Linked DNA regions of Homo sapiens. The protein of the gene in region 1 purifies or fractionates together with the protein of each later gene. This does not show direct contact. Each region holds a gene or a part of one and is shown on either strand. Other genes may lie near its edges.

Region 1 (2,833 bases):
AATTTGAAAGTAGGATCTTGAAAAGATATTTACACATTCATGTTCACTGCAGCATTATTCACTATAACCAAGAAGTGGAAGCAACCCACGTGAACATCAACAGCATCAACAGAATAACAGGCCAAGCGCGGTGGCTCACGCCTGTCATCGCAGCACTTCGGGAGGCCAAGGCAGGTGGATCACTTGAGGTCAGGAGTTCGAGACCAGCCTGGCCAACATGACGAAACCCTATCTCTTACTAAAAATACAAAAATTAGCTGGGCATGGTGGCACTTGCCTGTAATCCCAGTTACTTGGGAGGCTGAGGCACGAGAATTGCTTGAACCCAGGAAGCAGAGGTTGCAATGAGCCAAGCTTGCACCACTGCACTCCAGCCTCGGTGACACAGTGAGACCCTGTCTCAAAAGGAAATCCTGTCACATGTTACAACATGGATGAAACCTGGGGACATTATATTGAGTAAAACAAGCCAATCACAAAAGGACAGTATACTTTATAATTCCACTTATATGAAATATCAAGAGTAGCCAAAATCATGGAAACGTAAAACAGCATGGTGGTTCCCAGGGCCGGATGGAGAGGGGAATGGGGAGCTGGTCAATGGCTGTAGAGTTTCAGCTCTGCCAAATGAGAAAGACCTAGAGATCTGTTGCACAATGCTAACACTATGCATCTGGAGAGGGTTGGGGGGTTAAATTTTATGTGTTTTTCATCACAATGAAAAATTTGTAAATGTTTTCAAACTTAAGTGCCTAGTGAAGTGCTTGGAGTGCAGTAGCTGCCCTAGGCCCTCTGTCTCCTCTTCCATCCTGGGAACAGCAGCAGCAGCAGCAAACACTCAAGGCCCCTCACCCACCGTGCTGGAAACTGTGTGGGGAGCAGATGCTCAGAGTGAGCCACGGAGGCGGGAGGACCCAGCAGCAGGCGGGGGCTTGCCCACATGGCCACAGGTGAGCTGCTCGGCCTCTCGGCTTTGGTGCCTGCCTCTTGGAAGACTGAGGGGATAAATTGGTTACTAATAGATGTCATATAGTTAAGTAATGCAATGGAAAAGGCCATCTTCCAACGAGGTCCTCCCTTCTCCACCTTCAACACTGCTTGTCCCTGGCCAGCAGCCTTAGTTTAAAGAGTGCCGGAGACTAGGCTCCATGACAAGGCGACAGAGCCGGGGCACAGGCTAAGATGAACCATGAGGCCAGCTCCCTCTAATGGACTACAGCAGCCAGGCAGGGGCCACAGCAGTCCCGCTAGGGCCTCTGAAAGCACCAGGACACAAGGCATGACCCTCTAGAGCGGCCTCTGGACCCCAGGACTTCATTCCACCAGGAAAGAGCTAAGCATGACTTACATTAACACAAGCATCATGAAAGTGAACCAAGGAGGGAAAGACATGAAAAGCCAGAGGTAGGCTGTTTCTACATTTTTAAATACACTTTTCTACATTTAAATGTCACAGATACTTAGACTGCACTGACTTGACAGATAGACTAACAGCTACGAAGCACTTGTTGCAAATGGCTTGTTACTAAAAATGCTTTCAAAATATATAATAGGCCGGGCACAGTGGCTCACGCCTGTAATCCCAGCACTTTGGGAGGCCGAGAAGGGTGGATCACCTGAGGTCAGGAGTTCGAGATCAGCCTGGCCAACATGGTGAAATCCCGTCTCTACTAAAAATACAAAAATTAGCCAGGCGTGGTGGTGGGAGCCTGTAATCCCAGCTACTCAGGAGACTGAGGCAAGAGAATCACTGGAAGCCAGGAAGCAGAGGCTGCAGTCAGCCGAGATCGCGCCACTGCACTCCACCCTGGGCGACAGAGTGAGACTCTGTCTCAAAAAAAAGAAAAACAACAACAAAAAACAAGAACCATATAATAGAAGCGCCTCCCACCACCCTGTGTCCTCCCATTCCTCCCTGCCCCGTCCCACCTTCCCCAGAGACCTCCCCTCTGAATGGCCCTCACCTTGTGAGTCATCAGCAACTTAAAGACACTAGAGAGAAGGCTGGACACATGAAGCTGGAAAAACAAAATAAAGGCTAATGCAGACCACCGAGCCTTCCAGAACCGCTCATTTCCCACCACCCCCACACTCTCAGCCCCAGCATCCCACCCCACTCCCCCGCCAGGGCACACATACACCAGTCAGCACAAAAGGGACCATCTGACAAACTCTGAAAGGACTCCTCCAGCACAAGCCCAACTCCACCTCAAGACTCGGTCACAGAGGCCTTTGGAAGACAAGCCTTTGAGCCCCACCCACCCCATCCCTGAAGCAACCACAAAAATCACACCTGCCTATAATCCTAGCACTTTGGGAGGCCAAGGCGGGCGGATCACTTGAGGTCAGGAGTTCGAGACCAGCCTGGCCAACATGGTGAAACCCCATTTCTACTAGAAATATAAAAATTAGCCGGGTGTGGTGGCGGGTGCCTGTAATCCCAGCTACTCGGGAGGCTGAGGCAGGAGAATCGCTTGAATCCGGGAGGTGGAAGTTGCAGTGAGCCGAGACAGCATCACTACACTCCAACCTGGGTGATACAGCAAGACTCCATCTCAAAAAAATTTTTAAAAAATCACACCTGGATAGACTATCAGCAGGGCCAGCGTGCCAGTGGCCACTCCTTGTCTGACCCATTCCTGCTAATGTGGCCATGAACTTGGGGATAAAACAGTCACATTTGCTAGAACTGTGTATAAAATACAAAGCAGGCTCTGGCTTGGGTTTAAATAAGGGACATGCGCATTGGGCACATCATTTGGCTGCTTGGAGACCACAGTCCTCCCTCCCTGTATGCTTGGCTGTCCCCAAATGAACAGCGACCCCTGGATGA
Region 2 (3,500 bases), on another chromosome or scaffold:
GGGGGAGTAACAGACTTGCCTGAGATCACAGATCTAAAGGATCCAGCTGGGGCCAGAGCCCAGGCCTGGCTGACTTCAGAGTCTAGTGGACTCTTCCCACCCAGGATGTAACCCTGGTCGTCGACATCCTCCTGAGTACACCCACAGGCCTGAGAAGAACCGAGGGGTCTCACAATTTAGTCACCTACACCAATTTCTAGCCACTTACATTTTTCACCTATCCCTTCCTGCCAACCAAGCACAGACACACTCACTCCCCCACCAGGTAATGAGGAGCAGAGGACCGTAAAGAGCGGCTGCCCCTCTCGGCACAGCCTCCCTAAACTGCACAGGTCGGGGTGAGGGAGCTGCTTTGTGAAAGTGCAGGTGTGGTCACCGGCTCACAGGTGGCGGTCCACTCCGCTGTCTAGGAGTAGAAGCGGGAAGAGCTATGGGAGTGGAAAAGGGGTTCTCGGTGGGCCGGCCTGCCAGGGCTTTCCTACAGCTGCCTGGTTTTGCTGCGGGCTCTCACCGCCTCCTGCACCACCTCCTCTTGCTACTGCTGCGGAAGCCCGCCTCCAGGCTGTGGGAAGACTCAACGAGGTCACTAGCGGCGCCTTGTGGCACTAAGAGGTATTGCAAGCAGTCTATGAATTCGTGCGCACACTAAGTTCAACACTCTGAAACAGTATTCTTTCATACATGGGTCTTCTACGATTTTTTAAATATGTGACTTTTCATATATGTATTCCTGTTGGTATTAATAAATTAAAACTCATTTAAAATCTTCCTTAGTGCACTTTCTCCTTAAATGAACATGAAACATAACTATTCTAATGAGCAGGAAGCCCAAGACACTTTATTTAGCTTAAAACCGAGGTCTCTATTATTTACAAGGTGCAATGTAAATGGAAACAGTTTGTTACCGTTAAAGTGCTGTGCACCACAGAGGGCTGATCCTTGTTTACCCTGCCTGGTTTACGCATTCACTGGTCAACGTCCAGGCCATGACTCCAGGCAGAGTATCTGGTCACTGCCCGATCCCACCACTGGCGTTCATGGGACCATAAGTCACCAGCGGCAGAAGCCATTCCTGAGGCCTCATGACTGCCTATCTCTATGGCCAGGTTAAGAATTAAACAGCATTGTTAATCCCAATACTTTGGGAAGCCAAGGCAGACACGTCACCTGAGGTCAGGACTTTGAGACCAGACTGGTCAACATGGTGAAACCCTGTCTCTACTAAAAATACAAAAATTAGCCAGGCGTAGAGGCGCATGCCTGTAATCCCAGCTACTTGGGAGACTGAGGCATGAGGATTGCTTGAACCCAGGAGGCGGAGGTTGCAGAGAGCTGAGATTGCTCCACTGTGCTCCAGCCTGGGTGACAGAGTAAGACTCTGTCTCAATAAATAAATAAATTAAATTAAATTAAATTAAATTGAAGAATTAGACGGCATCGTGAACGTTCCTGGGAGAGGTGCCACACTGAACCTCCAGAGGCTGGCCGCTGGGCAAGTTCGTGTTAGGTTTCATTTAAAGCAGCCTCTGAGTATGGGAAGAAGTGTGGTCAGGCTTCTCCTCCTCTCAGAAGGTGTCAAGTTTATAAACAGTGACTCTCAATGACCGCAGCTTACATGGTCACTGTGTACAGTATTTTATCATCTATAAAAATCCTATATCTTGCCTTATTCCAGTCTACCAGAAGAGGTATTACAAGTCCAGTTTATACCAATAAAGAAACTGTGACTTGAAGAGCCTAAGCGACTTGCCAATGTCACACAATTAGGAGGTGACAGAGCCAGACTAGGGTGGAGAGTCTGCCTCCTCCCATGGAGTTACCACTGCTATATATTCTGTGTTTAGCTCAGCAGAGCACAGCCTGACACAAGTGGCTGCTGGCAAATGTCATTACTGTCACAGTATTCGTGCATCCAGCAAAACGTTTTTTTTTTTGAGTACCCATGCAGTAACTGTGCTATATTCTTTCCATTAGGGGCAAAATGTCATGGAAGCAACAACGGCAGACTCCAGCCATTCCTTCAACCATGGGGATCAGTGTGTACGTCACTTTCCCTTAAGAAAGAAAAGAAAAATTCCATTTTCATATCTTCCTGTTAGCAGACATGCCTCCACTGTGCCTCCCGCTGTGAGCATTTTACAGACAAAGGCTTCCCTATGCCTCTGTATTTCTTTTCCTCCCACTGCTGTACCACCGCGGGCTCTGCCTGTGGGTGACTAACATCAGGAGGCAGGGCTGGTCAGGCACAGAGGTCTCCCAGCTGAGCGCTGGCATTCCAGAAGCAACCCCAGCCATGGGCACCATGAGTGCCCAGAGGCAGAAAGTGGTGTAGCTCTGAGCAACCTGCCCAATAGCAGAGAGGCTGTGGACACCACTGTTTGCTTCCCTTCCCATGATTTATGGGATGTGGCCAGGCCTTTCTCTTCCCGATTTATGACCACCTGTCTTGGGAAGAACATAAATTACACATCCATGGCAATTTAAATCTCAGTAAGAGATAGGAGAAGACACCTAGGCTGGCCGCACTGTCTCCTGGGGTATTAGAAGCAATTAGGGCCAGATTGTTGGGCTTCACAAAGCCTGCGGAAGATCAGGGGGGTGTGCTGGCTCCTTGCGCCCCCCGCCTTCCCACCCTCACTCTGTGTTTAGGGTCAATTATCCTCCTTCTATAAACACAGGCTCCCAATGGAGGAAGGGGGGCACTGAAGATGCAGAGAACAAGCCCAAACACGTGAAGTGCTTTGCGGAGGCTGTTTCTGCAAGAGCATAAACCTTCTAAATCCAGAGGGAAGGATGCCCCACACCGAGCAACACACAGGGGGAAGAGAAAGAACAAGATGGACAAAAAAGGATGACAGCCAATTCCCCAAACCACTTGGCTGATTTACACAGAATCATCTATTTCTGTCCTGCCTCCTTTATTTTATAGGGAAGAACACTCAGGGTCTGAGTGCGGGCAGGGGTAGGAGCACAGCAGTCGGTGTGCTGCACATCCAGGTCTCCTGACTCCCAGCCCGGGATCTTCCCGCTGGCCCACCCTGCTTTCTGCCCCTAGTAGCTCCTCTGTGGCCATGGAAAACAGGAAGACTGAATTCTGGTTTGTTCTGATGGTGAGTGAGCGCATTTCAAAGAATAGCTATAACCCTGGTCCTCTCATCAATGTTCTGTCACATATAGTGACATTTCCCCCCAAAATTTTACTATGAAAATTCTCAAGCAGGCAAATGGTGAAATAATTTTACAGCAAACACCCATTTACCCGCTGCTTGAATTCTGAGCTTAACACTTGACTATATATATTTGTTTTTTTGTTTGTTTGTTTGTTTTTGTGAGACAGAGTCTCACTCTGTCATCCAAATTGGAGTGCAGTGGCACAATCTCAGCTCACTACAACCTCCACCTCTCGGATTCAAAGGATTCTCCTACCTCAGCCACCCGAGTAGCTGCAAATACAAGTGACCACCACCATGCCCAGCTAAGTTTTGTATTTTTAGTAGAAA
Region 3 (3,500 bases), on another chromosome or scaffold:
GCCATCTATCGTGTGCTGAGCCCTTGAAATGTGACAAGTCAGAACTGATGTGCGCTCTAAGTGTCAAATAGAGACTGTCTCAAAGGCCTTAGTTACCCAAAAAACTGTGAGACACCTGATAATTTTCTATTAATTATAAGTTGTTTTTAATATATTGGGTTAACTAAAATATCTTATTAAAATTAATTTCACCTGGGCATGGTGGCACATGCCTGTAATCCCAGCACTCTGGGAGGCCAAGGCAGGCAGATCACTGGAGCTCAGGAGTTCGAGACCACCCTGGGCAACATGGCAAAACCCCATCTCTATAAAAAAAAAACATTAGGGGGGCACGGTGGCTCACGCCTGTAATCCTAGCACTTTGGGAGGCCGAGGCAGGTGGATCATGAGGTCAGGAGTTCGAGAATACCCTGGCCAAGATGGTGAAACCCCATCTCTACTAAAAAAAAATACAAAAATTAGCCAGGCATGGTGGCAGGTGCCTGTAATCCCAGCTACTCGGGAGACTGAGGCACGAGAATTGCTTGAACCCGGGAGGTGGAGGTTGCAGTGGTGAGATGAGATCGGCCACTGCATTCTAGCCTGGGCGACAGAGCAATACTCGGTCTCAGAAAAAAAAAAATAATAATAATAATACAAACGTTAGCCAGATGTGGTGGTGCACACTTGTGGTCCCAGCTAGTTGGGAAGCTGAGGTGGGAGGATCACCTGAGCCTGGGTTGGTGGAGGTTGCAGTGAGCTGGGATTGCACCACTGCACTCCAGCCTGGGCAACAGAGCAAGACTCTGTCTCAAAAAAAAAAAAAAAAAAAAAAAAAAAGGCTGGGCGCAGTGGCTCATGCCCGTAATCCCAGCACTTTGGGAGGCTGAGGCGGGCGGATCACGAGGTCAGGAGCTCAAGACCAGCCTGGCCAACATAGTGAAACCCTGTCTCTACTAAAAATACAGAAAAATTAGCCGGGTGTGGTGGTGCATGCCTGTAATCCCAGCTACTTGGCAGGCTGGGGCAGGAGAATCACTTGAACCCAGGAGGCAGAGGTTGCAGTGAGCCGAGATAGCGCCATTGCACTTCAGCTTGGGCAATAGAGTGAGACTTCGTCCCTCCTACCCCCCACTCCCCACCCCCTCCCCCCCAAAAAAGGAAGAAAAACTAATTTCACCATTTCTTTTTACTCTTTTGACATGGTTACTAGAAAACTTCACATCACCTAGGGGGCTCACATTTTTTTGCTATTAGACCATTCGGGGCTACAGAGTTCCCATTTTAACCAGACTCAAAAAAAAAAAAAACACTGAAGAAAGAAATTATAGAATTGTGCTCACAGAAACCTTTTTTACCAGAATATCCAACGTTGGTGTATGGCTTCCTGTAAAGCATTTTGCACTCAAACTTCTACGCATAAGACACGAATTCCAAAGGGCTTCGGATGCCTTGAAGCTTACGCATCAAACAGAACTAGAAAAGCTTCGACACGGAAGCAAGCTCGTTTCGCCTCCAGAACGCGCCAGCTGCTCCCCTGATGAATGCAGGCATTCAGGGCTCGTGGATCCGCTGCCGATGCCTCTATTCTGGGCTTCTTCCATATGATTAGGAGGCTGTTCCTACTCTGTAGTTTTTCATTCCAAGCTGCGTGCGATTTTCTGCAATCAGGTTTGTTTCTCCAGGGTTCAATGGGTGGCGACGAAAACACAGAGAGTTTGACAATCCGGGCAGGTGGTGGATACGGAAGCTAAGAGGATTGCACGCGGTGGCTGCATCTGGGGGAGGGTGCGTTAACTCTGCCAAGTCCCTGGAGGGGCCATGAGTGGCCCCAGGGGGCTGCCAGGTGCACAGTGTCCTCTGGCTATGCTGACGCCTCTGATTCTTTGTCTGAGCAGTGAGGTGACTGAGTTGGCCTAAGGCCTCTTAAAGGTTGAACTCAATGAATTAAGGCTGGAGACATTTCTGAATGGCCTGGGGTGTCAACAGGTATGAACCAGTGTGCCCATCATGGCCAGTGGACCCCACTCCCCCATCTCTGGGTGTCAAGCACCAATGGGCGCTGCTGAGAGATTCCGCATGTAACAGGGCTATGGTATAATGGTTTCCCGTGACTGCCGCAACAAACCACTACCAACTGGGTGGTTTACAACAGAAATTCATCCACTTGCGGTTCTGGAGGCTGGAAGTCTGAAATCAAGGTCTTGGTGGGGCCACACTCCCTCTGAAAGTTCAAGGGAGGATCCTTCCTCGCCTCTTCCAGCTTCTGGTGGTCCCAGTGTTCCTTGGCTTGTGGCTCCGTCCCTCCAGTCCCTGTTTCTCATTTCGCATGGCCGTCTTCTCCCTATGTTTCTTGGTGTTTCTGTGTCCAAATTCCCCACTTCTTATAAGGACAGCAATCATTACACTGAGGGTCCACCCTAATCCAAGACGATCTCATTTAACTTTATCACATCTGCAGACCCCACTCCCAAACAAGGGCTCACTCACAGGTCCAGGATTAGGACTGGAACACATATTCTTGAGGAGCACATTTCAGCCCACATGACTGGCTAAGCAGTGGGACCCACAGCCCTCCTGCTCTTATTAACCAAGGGTGGGCTGGGTGTGGTGGCTCACGCCTACAATCTCAGCACTTTGGGAGGCTGAAACAGTAGAATGGTTTGAGCCCAAGAGTTTGAGACCAGCCTGGGCAACATGGTAAGACCCTGTCTCTACAGAAAATTCAAAAATTAGCCAGGTGTGGTGGCATGGGCCTGTGGTCCCAGCTACTCGGGAGGCTGAGGTGGGAGGATCACGAGCCCAGGAAGTTGAGGCTGTAGTGAGCTGTGATTGAGCCACTGCACTCCAGCCTGGGCAACAGAGTGAGATCCTAAACAAAAACAAACAAAAAGGGCCTCTTTGTGCCAGGTGCAGAGCTGGGGCCAGAGTGCAGCCTGGAGATGCCAGGCCTAGGCTGTTGACACAAATGATGTGGTTTATGACAACACCTGCGTTCCCTCTGGGAGTCTAGAATTTTGACACGTGTCAAGCAGAGGGTGACTACATGACCAGCCCCCAGTAAAAAGCCTGGGCAGGGAGTCCTTGGTGGGCACCCTCTGCTGGGGGAATTAAGTGTGTCCCGTATGACTCCACAGGGAGAGAACTCTGAAGCTTGGGCCTGGCCTGCCCGGGAATTCGCGCACCTTTTCCCTTTGCTGATGGTGTTTGCGTCCTTCCGTCACAATAAATCACGGCTGTGAGGACAACTATATGCTGAGTCCTGCCAGTGCTCCTAGGGAACCGGTGAGCCTGTAGATGGTCTTAGGAACCCTGCCACATGCAGCAACTGCAGACCTTCCCGTGAGACAGGTGGCAGCTGGGACCAGGGACCAGGGCGGTGGGGCTGGAAAGAGCCCAGCTGGGGAATTTCCTCTGGAAAGGCCCAGGGGAAGAGCGGCCTCCACCTTGTGGACAGAAGGAGAGCAGTGGAGCGGGGGCAGCTAGGAGATCCCTGTTTACCTGGCACACCATGGGGCACG
Region 4 (3,500 bases), on another chromosome or scaffold:
CATGGGCTGCTTCTTCCCAGTGGCCTAGAAGTCTGAAACAGATTTACACTCATTTTAGGAGCCTTTTATACATATTCACCTATGTGGCATGATATCTTTCTTCCTTACAAAAAAGGATTGTTCTAAAACAGGCTTAAGTTAAATATTAACTATAAACTTTCACTAACCAATTCAATTACTATATCCCATTTTAGTTAACTCTATAAAAACCTGAAAACATTTAAATTTCCTCTATTTAAAGCTGCTTTTCTACTAAAAGCTAAAAAACAAACAAAATCTTTCTTAATTCAGAATATCGTAATTTTCTAAGTATGTAGACCAGTAACTTTCAACTCGCCCAAACCAGGACTAACATAATGTGTTAGCTTTTAGCTACCTTCTATGTAAGACAGAAGAGAAAATAATACATGTGTACAGGCTTTACGAAAAACTCAGAACAAGTAAACCAGAAACTAAAGGTTGGTGACAGTAGGTGAGAATGGGGCAGAGGAGACAGCAACGAAAACTGAGAATTCACTGGGTATACCTTTTAACTCAGGTGTAACTCTTCGAACATTTAAATGCTTTACATACTCAAAAAATAAAATCAGAAAAATGGAAATAAAGCAAATCCTAAACCTGAATACAAACAGAAATAAGAAGCTGTGTGGCTGGGCGCGGTGGCTCACGTCTGTAATCCCAGCACTTTGGGAGGCCGAGGCGGGCAGAACGCGAGGTCAGGAGATCAAGACCATCCTGGCTAACCCGGTGAAACCCCATCTCTACTAAAAATACAAAAAACCAGGCGCGGTGGCAGGCGCCTGTAGTCCCAGCTACTCAGGAGGCTGAGGCAGGAGAATGGCATGAACCCAGGAGGCAGAGCTTGCAGTGAGCCAAGATCGCGCCACTGCACTCTAGCCTGGGTGACAGAGGAAGACTCCATCTCAAAAAAAAAAAAAAAAAGAAATAAGGTGTGGCTAGGCGCGATGGCTCATGCCTATTATCCTAGCACTTTGGGAGGCTGAGGCTGGTGGATCACCTGAGGTCAGGAGTTCAAGACCAGCCTGGCCAATGTGGCAAAACCCCATCTCTAATATAAAAAATTTGCCACACATGGTAGCGCACACCTGTAATCCCAGCTACTTGGGAGGCTGAGGCAGGAGAACCGCTTGAGCCCGGGGCGGGTGCAGTGAGCCAAGATTGCACCACTTCACTCCAGCCTGGGTGAAGGAGCAAAATGCCTCAAAACAAAACAAAACAAAACAAAACACTGTGTATTGCATTAACAACATAAGCTACACAGAAAAAAATGAATTCAAGTAACTTTTCATAGTTATCTTGACTGTATATTTCAAGTGGGATATATATTCTAAGAATAAGAACATCCTTGGGTCACACCTGTAATCCCAATGCTTTGGGAGGGGAAGGAGGGCAGATCACTTGAGGCCAGGAGTTTGAGAATAGCCTGGCTAATAGGCGAAACCCCCTCTCTACCAAAAATACAAAACATTAGCTGGGCATGGTGGGGCGCGACTGTAAGTAATCCCAGCTACTCAGAAGGCTGACTGAGGCAGGATAATCACTTGAACCTGGGAGGTGAAGGTTGCAGTGAGCCTAGATCGCACCACTGCACTCCAGCCTGGGCAACAGAGTGAGACTCTGTGTAGAAACAAAAGACAAAGCAAAACAAAAACTTCCCAAAAAACCTTCAAACTTTACTTAGAGTGTATACTGTTTTTAAGGTATTGTAATTCTGAAACAGTTTTATGTATATCACAGCATTGTAGTAAGTAAATGTAAAACTAGGACAAAAATTTTTACCACACAAGTGTCAAAAATACAAACTAAAAGGTAAAACAAAACATTTAATGTTACATTTTAATAGAAAATATCAGTATAAACTCACAATTTCAAGAATTTTTTCCCTAAATTCATGATTTTTAAAATGTTTTTTTCTAGCTGTTCATTGAAACGACAGTACATACCAGAAGCAATGAACAGACACAGTGATCAAATCTTAGTTTCCGCTATAATGAACCACGATTTCCCACAGAAATAGCTTATTTTCAGTCTGAGACAAGCAAAGCACAAGATGAGCCAACGCTGTCTTGTATTAGAAGGCAAAGAAATACTTGGACTAATGGGATTTCAAAAGGATCAACAGCAATGCATGGGCTTTTCCTGTGCTGACACAGCATTAATAAATTTTATTTCAACTTTTAATGTTTATCTTTAACATGTGTCATAAAATCCACTAGAGCTACTCTGAGTCAGCTAATACAGTTGTCCTAAAAACATATCCATCTTTATCTCCATCCACATTTGAGCCCTTTCAACCCAGGTAACATGTGAAAGTCACTGAACACTTCATTCCCAAGATACAAATATTCCTAAGTTTTGCTGCAAGGTATAATTACTAATCTGGGTTAAATTCACCTCTTTATGCCCCCCCGCCTTCTCCTAATTTTTCAGGTGGCCTAGCAGTGACTGAAGTAGTTTCAGGCTGGCATACTCCTTCTTCTATAATACACTGGTAGTTCAATGCTAACTTACAGAGTCTGAAAGTAAGAGAAAATTTGTAAGGACACTGATAAAAGATCATTCTTTCTTTTCCTGGAATTAATTTTAAGTAAAAATCCTTTCCTTATATTTGGCCATATGTAGTCAAAAACTGGTAAGAGTAGCTTTATTTGAATGAAAAAAATGAAAATACTTTTTATTTCTTCCTTCCTATATTCTCACTTCTTCTTTTAAATTTCTTTTTTTTTTCTTTTACCTTTTAAGCAGCTGTCTACAAGCTATCTCACTTCTTGATACTAAGTACACACTAATTTGAAAATTAAGTCATTAGGAACTTTTGTGTTTTTGTTTAAACAAAGCATCTTAAAACATCAGATTTAAATGTAAAGAGTTCTGAAAATAATTAAATTCAATTATTTACCTGTGTGCTTTCCCCCGCCACTTGTAAGGCTGAGCTGAATCAGGATTTATTTCAATGGCTCTGTCACAGTCTCGGATGGCAGCATTTGGCTTCTGTAATTTGACGAAGACACTGAAAAATAAGTGTGTTATTAAAAAGTATTCATTTCAGTAAAAGTTTTGGGATCAACACAGAAGCAACTCTATTTAAACAAATGTGCAGAAATTATTTGCCAGGGGATGCTTTTCTGTTTAGAGTTCTCACCTGGCCCTCTTGGCATACAAAATGGCCAAGCGAGGATTCAGCTTGATGGCATCTGTGAATAAGTCAATGGCTTTCTGGAGTTCACCTAAAGTGAAACAAAAGTTATCGAGAAATATTCAGAGGATAAAAATATTAATAAAAAGTTTTGATCTGTTATCCAGTTAAGTCTTTTACATTTTTCTTTTAATCAAGTAAAAATAAAAAAGACAACTAAGTTATACTAAAACTGGCTCTTGAAAGCAAATCTTACCACACCTATACTGTAACTCACGAGGTAAGACAATTTCTGAGTACGTAAGCCCCTAACTAACAATAGAATAGCACATTCTTAGTATGA

What was found.
Region 2: the proteins of ADCK2 (region 1) and MTARC1 purify together in Homo sapiens (affinity purification with mass spectrometry; one large-scale study listed by BioGRID and IntAct). This does not show direct contact.
Region 3: the proteins of ADCK2 (region 1) and BRI3BP purify together in Homo sapiens (affinity purification with mass spectrometry; one large-scale study listed by BioGRID and IntAct). This does not show direct contact.
Region 4: the proteins of ADCK2 (region 1) and ST13 purify together in Homo sapiens (affinity purification with mass spectrometry; one large-scale study listed by BioGRID and IntAct). This does not show direct contact.

What each region holds. Positions count from the first base shown.
Region 1 is NC_000007.14:140,689,945-140,692,777, reverse strand, and holds part of ADCK2 (uncharacterized aarF domain-containing protein kinase 2), read right to left. Parts: intron 2,019-2,833; coding exon 1,965-2,018; intron 1-1,964. UniProt on the Homo sapiens protein: The function of this protein is not yet clear. It is not known if it has protein kinase activity and what type of substrate it would phosphorylate (Ser, Thr or Tyr).
Region 2 is NC_000001.11:220,807,413-220,810,912, reverse strand, and holds part of MTARC1 (mitochondrial amidoxime-reducing component 1 precursor), read right to left. Parts: intron 1-3,500. UniProt on the Homo sapiens protein: Catalyzes the reduction of N-oxygenated molecules, acting as a counterpart of cytochrome P450 and flavin-containing monooxygenases in metabolic cycles.
Region 3 is NC_000012.12:125,014,145-125,017,644, reverse strand, and holds part of BRI3BP (BRI3-binding protein precursor), read right to left. Parts: intron 1-3,500. UniProt on the Homo sapiens protein: Involved in tumorigenesis and may function by stabilizing p53/TP53.
Region 4 is NC_000022.11:40,832,640-40,836,139, forward strand, and holds part of ST13 (hsc70-interacting protein), read right to left. Parts: intron 3,249-3,500; coding exon 3,164-3,248; intron 3,032-3,163; coding exon 2,921-3,031; intron 33-2,920; coding exon 1-32. UniProt on the Homo sapiens protein: One HIP oligomer binds the ATPase domains of at least two HSC70 molecules dependent on activation of the HSC70 ATPase by HSP40. Stabilizes the ADP state of HSC70 that has a high affinity for substrate protein.